Linked DNA regions of Homo sapiens: region 1 is reported to be linked to region 2. Evidence: microRNA targets listed by miRTarBase, many of them from high-throughput screens and not tested one by one. Region 2 holds a microRNA gene; the other region holds the end of a gene's coding sequence.

The links. The annotated mature microRNA hsa-miR-495-3p reads AAACAAACAUGGUGCACUUCUU and lies in region 2 at 2,689-2,710, shown strand. An mRNA with a match to its seed (bases 2 to 7 or 8) in the 3' UTR can be bound and repressed. Matches are read on the target gene's strand: a 7mer-m8 pairs with bases 2 to 8, a 7mer-A1 pairs with bases 2 to 7 and ends in A, and an 8mer does both.
Region 1: the mRNA of TTYH3 is a reported target of hsa-miR-495-3p. Seed matches in the 3' UTR shown: 7mer-A1 at 3,654-3,660.

The regions. Positions count from the first base shown.
Region 1 is chr7:2,660,809-2,666,174 of GRCh38, forward strand. TTYH3 (tweety family member 3) reads left to right here. Exons shown (of 14, transcript NM_025250.3): 14 at 860-3,994. The coding sequence ends at 931. Among named protein-coding and RNA genes, the nearest start is that of AMZ1, 25 kb to the right of the region's middle. RefSeq lists enhancers at 154-223, 304-403, 4,067-4,361.
Region 2 is chr14:101,031,116-101,036,481 of GRCh38, forward strand. It overlaps MIR495 (microRNA 495), which reads left to right and starts at 2,640; the gene lies at 2,640-2,721. LOC124903407 (mucin-2-like) reads left to right here. Exons shown (of 5, transcript XM_047432049.1): 5 at 1-3,367. It overlaps MIR543 (microRNA 543), which reads left to right and starts at 872; the gene lies at 872-949.

The DNA.
Region 1 (5,366 bases), not on the chromosome of region 2:
CTCACTGCCGCCGGCCCCTGACACGTGCCAGGCCTGTGGGTCCTTTGGCCTCAGCACATGCCTCGCACATGTGGGTTTCTCTGTGAGCACACACATGCATTCTCTTGCACACACACGTGCACTCAAGACCTTCACACTCCTGCCTGGACGAGGGCACCCACGAGGTGCAGGCCAGCTGCAGAGCCAGGCACAGGACAGCGCCCCCTGCAGCCGCCTCTGTTCCTAAGTCCAAGACCCCCAGGAGCCCACAGTTGGGTCCCCCACGGGAGGGGGGGCTGCATTGCTCCAGCCTCCTGTGTGGCTTAAGGGGCCCTCCTTCCATGGCGTGAAGGGGCAGAGTAGCCCGGGGGATGTCCTCAGGCTGGGGCCTCCGTACTCCTGCATGCTGTGGCCTGGCTGTAGGTGGACCCGGCCCTGAGCCCGGAGGAGGCCTTGGCCCGGCCCTGGAGGGTGGCTGGTTTGTGTCCTTCAGGTCCTGGGTGCGTAAGGTGCAGGTAGGGCCTTGGAGCTGTGGCTCCTGGGGGTGGCAGAACTCTGCCTGGCCCAATGCCCAAATGCCGCTGGTGTGGGCATGGGAGGCTGTGTGTACGCCCCTCCTCAGAGGAGACATCCCCTGTCCTGAGCCTGGAGAGTTCGGGGGCTGCCCCTCCCTCAGCCTCAGCCAGACCTAGAGCGCAGGGGCCCCCAGCCAGCGGCCCCTCCTTAGCCCCTCCCTATAGGCTCTGTCAGGGCACCCTGTACTGTCCCATTCTGCCCCCAGGGCTGTTGGCTCAGCCAAGTGAGGACCACGCGGAAGGCGCCCCTGGCTGCGTGCGCCATGCAGGGGCCCTGCTGATGCCTCCCCCTTGTCTCCCTCCAGTACACCTCCAGCATGAGAGCCAAATACCTCGCCACGAGCCAGCCTCGCCCTGACTCCAGCGGCAGCCACTAGACCGCGCCCGGCAGCCACCCACCCCACGTGCCAACTTCCCCTCCCCGTGCCAGCACTGCCGCTTCCACCTGGGCCACCCACCGGACCCTCGCACGCCGTGCCAGGCCTGCCCCAGACGCGTCTGCAGGCCGCTTGCCCTCCTGTCCCCTCCCCGCAGGGGCACAGTGGAGACGCAGGGGCTCTGGGCCCGTACCGCCAACTCGGGTCACACCTGAACGCTGCTGCCAGCCGATGCCCCAGCCCTGCACGCCACCCACTATCCCGGCACGCTCCCTCTGCAGATGGTCGCCGCACCTACAAGCCCTGGCCGCACCCAACCTGTGTTGTTGCCGCCCGGCCCTTCCCTCCACAGCTCTCCTTCCTCCCGCCCGGCACTTCTGTGGACCCCTTCTTAGTTCACAGGCACGGCTGGGGCCGCTCTGTGCTGGCGCCTGCTGGCCACTGAGGGACAGGGACACGTGCCACCTGCTCATCTCTGCCCTGAGGTCACCCCGTGGTCCCTCCACGTGCCCATCTCTCTGCAGTGCCCTCCTCGCCTGTGCAGCCCGCCCACCCACAGGCTCACCCCTCCTGCCGGCTGCCAGAGGCCCCCTCCAGCAGGGCCTCTCTCCGTTGCCCCAGCTTCACTCTCTCCCTCAGCACCTGCCCTGCTGGAGGCCCCAGCCCTCCGTGGACAGCAGGGGCCACGTGGAGCCCGGGCCGCTCACCCGCCACCCAGTGCTGGCCGCCTTCTTGGTGCCAAACCCCCTTCCCCCACCCAGAGACTGGGCAGCTGTGTCTGGTTCGTTCTTTGCACTAACCACATTTGTCATCTCTAGGGCAGGCTGGGGCTGCGGGCTGAGGGGGACCGCTGGCACCCCCCTTCCCTCCCTTCTTGGTTCCATTTCCATCCATGACAGGTACAGCATCCCAGGAGCCCGGCCTGAGGGGCTGGACCCGAGCCGGCTGTGAACATCCCTCAGCCCCTGCTGTCCCCCCTTGGGACTAACCACTAACCTCACCCCCAAACTCCACGGGTGCCCCTAGCTGGCCCAGAGCCGGCAGTGTGAGCCCAAGTCCGGGCTGGAGCCGAGGCCGGAGCAGCTGTCTGGGAGTCAAGGCTGCAGTAGCGTTTCTTCATGGGGTGCTCCAGGGGGTGCCACAGACCGACAGGCAGCCCAAGGGCCTGGACACCCCTCCCCAGGCAGGTGCTGCCCCAGGAGGACTGTCCTCGGGAATGAACCTCCCGCGGGCTTTGGACTGAGGTCCCTGTGGCCTCGGTCTCCTCCCCATGAAGTGGGAGCGAGGCTCCCCAATGGTGCTTTTGGCTTTAGTGTACGATGTTTGCTGTGCTTCCCGCCGTGGAGGGCAGAGCCACCCCACATCAGGATCGGACGTGCTACCCCTCCCGGTCCCGGCCCTGGCCCAGCCAGCCCAGCCCTCGAGGCTCGATGCCTGTGCCAAGGCCAGGGGCAGCCAGAGGGCAGCTGGATGGCCACGTGCAGGGGTCAAGGCTGGGCCCTGCAGTGGGGCGGGCCGCCAGCCCCAGCAGTTTACAGACGCATGGCTCTTCCTCCCAGAGCAGCCGGCAGCTACCTGGACCGGAAATGTCCTCATCCCCTCCCTGGGGCCAGGCTCTGCCCTGGCCTTCCTCTGTGAACCCCTCCTTTCTTTGTGCTGGTGTCTGGGACCAAAAAGGGGGAATATGGGAGGGCAGAGTGGGGAGGGGAGTCCATGGGCCTGGGGCCCCAAGCCGGGGCGTCTGAGCTCCCCAGGCATGACCAAACCTCAGTGGAGGGGCCTCTGCTTCAGGCCCCGCCTGGCTGACATTCTGAGCCCCCCTCGGAGGCCCCGCCACAGCCAACCTGCCCAGTCTTTCCTCTGGGCTTGACCCGCCAGGGGAGTTCTCCAGGCCTAGGGCCAGGAGAGAGGCCCTGGCACCCTGGCGTGGGTGCCCGCCAAACGCCCTGCGACCGCTCAGAAGCACAAATGCTGTCCATGGCCGTGAGGCTGCCTGCCAGGTGAATGGACATAGCGTGAGAGGCGGTGAGGCCAGGGCTTCCAGCCTCGTGCTGTCTCGGGACTCCTGACCGTGGTGTGCGTGTGTGCCCGTCTGTGACTTTCTACTCACCAAGGTTGAAGAAAGGAAACGGGGAAAATCAAAAGGGGTTCAAACCCCACCTCAGTAGGTGGAGGGGAGCGCCTGCCATTGGTTGTATTTTTGTTCTGAGTTTTCGGTGCCGTGTTCCTAACTACTCCATCCCATGACCTCGCCACACCTACTGGGGCATCTGGCTGGTGCCTGCTGCCATGGCCAGCCCCCACTCTCACCCTGCACAGGGGGTCTTGCAGCCCCCAGGCCCACAGCCTCGTTGGGAGGACAGGGTGGCCCTGGGGACAAGAGGGAGGAGCCCAGGGGCTTACCTCACTGAGAGTGCTCCCCAGCAGGCATCCACTACCCCAGGGCCCCCCACATGTCATGGCAAGGTTGGTAGTGAATGGGCCTGGTTGGGAGCAGCCCCTGGCCCATTGCCCACCCACCCATCTCACTATGCAATTCGAGTTCCAAGCAACATTTGCTCCTGCCCTGGGGCCAGCTCTGCCCCAGCCCTGAGAGGGGTGGTGAGGCAGCCCCCTGGACCCCAGAACCCCAGACAAGGGGGCAGGCGGGGGACCAGGGCCTCTCCTGTGGGATCTTTGTTTTGTGTTTAACCATAATGGTTGTGTACTGAACCACTTCATATTTGTTATATATAATATATATATATATAATCTCCTTAAGACTCAGCCTCCTGGTTTACCCCCCCGGCCTGGGCATCTGACCTCCCCCACCCCAGTGTGATTTAACATCCAGGAACTGAGGCCTGAACCATTTTGCATTTCCCCCTCCTCCAGCCTCTGTAGGGCCATGGCTGTATGTACTGTCGCTGTGTTTTTTTGTTTTTTTAGAACTGGGTTTGGGGGCTGATTTTTATTTCTTTGGGGGCTTTTTTTCTTGGCAAATACTAAAAATCTCGTCAATGTAATTTCTGTGGTTTCTATTCAGCTTGGGTTTCATGTTTTAAAATAAATTTTAAAAAGCAAGCCTCTCTTCCTGAGCTGCTTTGGCTCCTGGCTGGGCGCTGGTAGGGAGTCCACGGCTCCAGGCAGGGGCATTGGGGGAACAGGGGGACACTGAGGGTGGGGCCGACCAGGTCAGCTCCGAGGGGTCGGCTGGGCGGGGCCTCTTGTGGTTGCGGGCGGGGCCTCTCGGGGTTGTGGGCGGGTCTTCAGGGGTGGGCGGGGCCTCGGAGTGACTGGGCGGGGCGCCGGGGACAGGCTCTCCAGGGATGGGGTGGGCGGGGCGCCGGGGAAGGCTTTCCAGGGTTGGGGTGGGCAGGGCTTCTGGAATGAGTGGACGAAGGCCTTGCAAAATGGGTGGCCGAGGCCGGGCGCGGTGGCTCACGCCTTTAATCCCAGCACTTTGGGAGGCCGAGGTGGGCGGATCACGAGGTCAGGAGATCGAGACCATCCTGGCTAACACAGTGAAACCCCATCTCTACTAAAAATACAAAAAATTAGCTGGGCGTGGTGGCGGGCGCCTGTAGTCCCAGCTACTCGGGAGGCTGAGGCAGGAGAATGGCGTGAACCCGGGAGGCGGAGCTTGCAGTGAGCTGAGATCACGCCGCTGCACTCCAGCCTGGGCGACAGAGCGAGACGCCATCTCAAAAAAAAACAAAAAAATGGGTGGGCGAGGCGCCGGGAACGAGATCTCGGGGCATGGAGTAGGAGGAGCCTCTCGGAGCGAGTGGGCGGGGCCACGCTCGCTGGGTGGGCGGCTTCTGGCGGGCTCAGGGCGTCGCTCAGGGCGTCGGTGTGCAAAGCAGCGATGGACCCGAGGGTCTGGAGCTGGGAGTGCTGATCCGATCGACGTAGTGAAAGCCTCACTTTGCTGTCTGGACAAGTACTGCCAGGGGCCCGCGGGGACCGGGATCGCTGTGCAGAGGCCCCACTGGCCCTCAGGAGAGGTGAGGGTGCCTGGCCAGGAGCAGGGATGATGGAGGCGTCGAGTGGCCGGGTTGGAGCAATGATGGGTTCCGGGCCGAGCTCTTCCTGAGCCCCCAGTGGCCATCACTCCCCGTCCTTCCAGAAGCAGCATGGAGGCGGGTTCCCGTGCTCCCCGGCCTGGGGGTCCTCTGGCGCCCTTCCTGGAGGCCCGCACAGGGCCCACGTGTTTCAAGGACCCTCCCCACCCCAAGCTCCTGCTAAGAAGCAGGCTTGGGAAGGCACATAACCCTGTAATAACACACTCACCCCACAGGGAGATGTTAGGACCTCCGAAGTTGGGGGAGGCCCCCTTTTGACCAGCAGAGCACAGGCTTGGAGCACAGGTGGTGAGGGAGCCACCAGGCCCAGCAGAGGATGCGGGGGCTCTCTGTGGCTCCCAGCTCTCAGGGCACCTGTGGGCACCTGTGTA
Region 2 (5,366 bases):
CCCGGCCTTGGTATGCTCCCATGGCTACGGCAGAGGCACAAGAAAGTAATTAGAAACGCAGAAACTCCTTAAGGCCAAGGCTGGGAACTGCTATATTTCTACCCACAGATCATTGACCAGAACAATTACACGGCCGAACCCAAGGCAAGGGGCGGGGAGGCCCACTCCACCCGGGAGGGGGTTGTGGTGAGGTGTGAATGCAGGAACCGGTGAGGATTTGCCACCACCAAGTCAGTTGTCCACGTGGACCACCTGAGAACTTGGGTTTTATTCATTGCTCATTCATCCCTCCCTAACCCGCAGCTTCCGGTCTGCCCCGGGGGCTCTTCTCCGGCTCAGGCTGATCGACAGTGGTGACGCTGTGCCAGGACCCCTGGTCATTCCATCTGTTTGAGGCAAATGTTAAAAAATCCCTTGCGCTACCCATTCTATGACGACTCCCTTGGCTCAGAGGCTCCATCAGGGCAGACACTTTGCTGTTTGTCCCTAAAGGGTGGGTGGTAGATCTCATCCATCTTATCTGGGGAGTTATTGTGACTCTCCTGGTCCCTCCTCATGTATCCTCAGGAGGACTTTTAGGATGCAAAATCACTGTTTCTGTGCCATTGTCATATTCTGTGCTACTGGAGGAGACTTTTTGTTATTGAGAAATTGAACACATCGTGCTCACAAGCAGCTCCAGGACACAATGCCACCTGTGCAGAGGGGGCAGACCTGTTAGATGTCTCCCAGGTCTTGAGGGGGTTGTATGCACGGCCATATCTTTGTCACCGGTTGCCCGGTGCGCATCAGGACCCATGTGCTCTCAGGAAGCCCGCAGGAGTGATACCAGCCGCGGAGAAGCAGTGTTGTCAACGGTGCTGACGTGCGGTACTTAATGAGAAGTTGCCCGTGTTTTTTTCGCTTTATTTGTGACGAAACATTCGCGGTGCACTTCTTTTTCAGTATCCTATTCTGCCTTGAAGACGTCTTGGTTTGGGTGCAACTTCAGGGAAGGCACATGGGCCCCTGTAGTGGACGCTGATCAGGACCTCCCTACCCCATGTCTTTTCTCCTTCCTAAATTTCTCCTTGTTTTTTTTTTTTTTTTTTTTTTTTATGAAAGCTCCCGTCTTCCCGCCGTGTGCTTTGATTGCATTGACCCTGCCCCACTTCCTCCACCAGCCCAGGCTTAAGCGAATCTCTTGATCTCTTCTCCTTTGCCACTGCAATTGCTTCCGGAATAGGCCCATGACCCCACTGGGCCAGTGATAGGCAAGGAGATGCTTGCTGCAGCTTCTGGGAAAGAAACTGTTTCTCCCTTTCCTGTGATAGCTGCCAGAGTAGACACTGTCTATTCCATTCAGCTGGGAATAGACAGTGAACTTTGACGTGAGCTTCGAAGGTCCCACAGCCGTTTAAGGACTGAGAGGAGAGGGCTTGGTGCCACGCAGACACAGCAGAGGGAGTCTGTACCATGAAAGGCATCTTGGAGACCTAGAGAAGAGCCTGGATGATATCATTTGAGTCCCTAGATCAAACCCTGCCTGAAGCTTGCTCTGTCTCTGTACTTTTTAGTTATATACGTCTATAAATCCCTTACTTGTTTAAGCCAGTTGGAGTTAGATCTTATCTTACTTGCAATACAAACAGATGATACCACAGTGTGTTTTCCAGTGTGACTGGGAAAGCCTGCATTTTTTTCAATGATGTGTTTCTCACGGTTTGCCTATCTATCTTCAGTGTCCTATTTAAGGCAGGGTTTTGGTGGAAGGTGACTTTTCTTATGGACTTATGCTTTCAAAGCTTTGTCTTAGTGATTTAATTTATGGTTGACAAATGATGCACAATTACCGTGTTTTGTGTCCAGCAATGGGTCACTGGGTCCTCTCTGGAAGGCCTGATGGATGGTGGGCCCCAGAACTTCTGCCCCGATTCACTCTCCCTCGAATCCACCTCTCTCTGGGAGGCTGCCCTGCAAGTGATGTGGACTTGGGGAAGCCGTTGTCCTTTCCTGGCCCCTGCTGTCCTTTGGCTCTCTGTGGGTTGGCTGTATTTGTCACAACTCACACTTAACTGTCAGTGTTTTAGAACCAAGCCATGCCTCCAGGGAACCCGGAGCACTTTAGAGAGGAGGTGCAGTGGTCAGCACCATGCAAGGTGCACAGAGAGATGGGTCCACCGAGAGCCGGGGCTGCCTTGGTGGTTTGTTTCTCCTGATTCGATATCTTTGTCTTCCCATCTCCTTCCTGGAACCATGGGCTCATGGAGGAGATTCTATTTTTGGGTCCAGGACCATCCCATTTTCTCTGAAGTGATGCTCTCCATGAGCATTTGCAGGGTTGATAGTAAACATTCCGAAAGCCGTCTGCCCTGATTATTGAATTCTGCCCATGAAGACTTCCTGGGATCCCGAAGTAGAGGGAGTCTGGGATCGGTTTGCTTTATCCGTGATGACTGTCCGCCTCTGCTCAGTGTCAGCCCAGCCCTTCGAAGCATGTCCCCCACCTCCCCTGGGGTGAGCCAACTTACCTGATGCTTTTAGGCTTAATTGAGCATAAGTTTGATTGGCAGCGTCTGCCCGGCCCTGCCCTCACGCCCTGACCCTCAGTGTCCCTTCACGCCCAGGTGTGCCTCTGGCAGGGAGGACGTGCTCATCTCTGGTACCTGAAAAGAAGTTGCCCATGTTATTTTCGCTTTATATGTGACGAAACAAACATGGTGCACTTCTTTTTCGGTATCAAATATCTCCTTGAAGTGCCTCCATCCCCGACGGGACCCTGAGCATGGGACCTGGTGTCACTACCTCTCTTGGTATGTACATGGAGGATTTGTCCTGGCAGCCCCTCGGTGACTTTGTGTGTTGGTGGGCTCAGGGACCATGCTCAGTCCTCAGTCCTCAGTCCACGCCCACCTCTCGGACAGGCACAGTTGGCGAGGCCTCAACCACATGCCAGTTCCCCGCTGCCAGGGAGGCTGGGGAGATGCACTTCCAGGCTCCATTGAGAAGCGTTCCCCAACATTTGAGAAGAGTTCAGATCATAGCAGCCAAGAAAAAAATAAAAAAGGAAGCAGCTGCCACAACAACAAAAACAAATAAGCAATGAAGACCCCTGCCCCCATCCGCTCTCTCCAGAGGCTTGAGGGGATGGCTGAAGGGGACATGAGGACATGCCATCTGGGGGACTGCCACCCGCACCTCCACAGAAGAATTGATTGGGGGTAGCAATTGTGGCAGAAGGCGTCCCTGTGGTTCTGGGAGATGGGATTTCTCAGAGTGGTGATTTACTGGAGCCTAATCCTCCCTGCCCCGCTCTTTCTTTACTTTTCTTTTCTTTTTTTCTTTCTTTTTTTTTTGACACAGAGTCTCGCACTGTCTCCTGGGCTGGAGTGCAATGGCACGATCTTGGCTCACTGTAACCTCTGCCTCCCAGGTTCAAGCGATTCTCTTGCCTCAGCCTTCCAAGTAGCTGGGATTACAGGCGCCCGCCACCAGGCCCAGCTAATTTTTTGTATTTTTAGCAGAGACGGGGTTTCACCATGTTGGCCAGGCTGGTCTTGAACTCCTGACCTCATGATCCACACCCACCTTGGCCTCCCAAAGTGCTGGGATTACAGGCATGAGCCAGTGCGCCCAGCCCCCGCCCCACTCTTTCTAGGTGCCAGTTCTGCCTCTGAGAGATGTGCTCCTTGATCACCAGCATCAGAGAGATGGTGTCTGACATTGGTGTCTGCCCCAAATCGGGAGCAGTGAACAATGGCTGACGGCAGAACACATGCCTTCCCGAAGACACTGCTGTCCGGGTGTCCAGTCCCCACATTCAGTCCATCCTTGGGCCCTGGAAGAGAAGAGGTTTCCCCAGTGTGTTCATTTTATTTGTGACGAATCATTTTTGGCCACTCTTTTTTCAGTATCAAATCCCACTTGAAGGGAAAGGCTGTTTGAGCTGGGAGCTTTGGTGGCATCAGCAGCTCTCTGGGGTGAGTGATGGGTGTTGCCCAGAGAGCATACGCGTCATCCCCACGGCCACCTGGTCCTCTGAACCTCAGCATCCCTGTCCCCCGAACCTCAGCATCCCTGTCCCCCAGGAGGGCTTCCTGGAGCTCTGCCAGCCAGAACTAGAGGCTGTGGGACTGCTCTCCGGGCTACACTTTGGTACTGGAGGAGAGGTTATCTGTGTTTTTTCCCTTTATTTATGATGAAAAATATGGTGCACTTCTATTTGAGAATCATGTGCCATCGGGAAAGGTCAGAACCCACTTCTGGAAGGAGATGCTAACGGCAGTCCATTGGTGACACTGGGACCATGCTGGCCTCAGCAGGTGCCCTTCAGACAGTGGGCAGCTGCTCCACCCATCCTTTGGGCTCTGGCCTCCCTCCAGAGAACTTCCCGGTGGCAGAAACACTTTGGAGAAGCAGCACCGGTCTTCATGTCAGGACATTCCATCAAGAAAGGCTGTCCAAGCTGTGGCCTGCATAGTCAACCTGTTTTACTCATTTGAGTGCCACCTTTCTAAATGATGGGGTGCCCACTTCAGGGAAGGTGCAGCTGTGGGAGCAGAAGGCAGGCCCCACAGTCTGTATATGACACGTGCCACTTGGCCGGTGGACCCTCAGCCTGAGGACCTCTGGAGGGGACACTGGCTCTGAGTCCCCTGTGGAAGGGGAAGCACAGTTGTTGGATGACGCGACATGGACAGTTCTCTTTCGACCAGATCCTTGTCTCCCATCGAGGGGGGATTCTGCTCTCACTGCTGCTTATGTCAGGAGAGGGTCACTGTTGCCTCCATCACCTCAGGTACGTCAGAGGAGGGCCTCAAGGAAGCCTTGCATCTCTGATGGTACGTATCCTTGTGTGTTAACCCTTGCCGTCTGTTTCCTTTGCAGGAGGACACCCTGGGCTCTGGAAGAGAGACAGCACCCCAGAAGCCGGCCAGGAATGGTTGGAGGGAGGCTATTGGTGATGTGTTCACTCTGTGTGTGGCAGATACCCCACAGTGGACCTCCTAAAGCACTGAGTGCCTCCTTGAAGGACTTGCTGTACGTGGTGTGAAGTTCAGGAACACAGTGTGGGTGTCTGTCAGCCCCTCGCAGAGGGTATGTGCGCAGATGGTGGAACAGCTGGCAAGTGTTTTCCTTTATTTGTTTTTTCTTTTGAGAATTGAGACTTTATTGAATGAATCACCATATAATCCTGTTTCCTAAGGTAAATCTATACATAAAAAGTTAGGTCCTACACCACCAATTTCTTGTTAAGAAATGGACCAAGAAATATGAACAAAACCATGTGTAACACAGTTTTCAGAGTTTTAGAAGAATGGCAAAATATACACTAGCTTGTCTCTTGATTGCCAAAGCTTAAACTCTAAAGAATAGGGAGGACATAG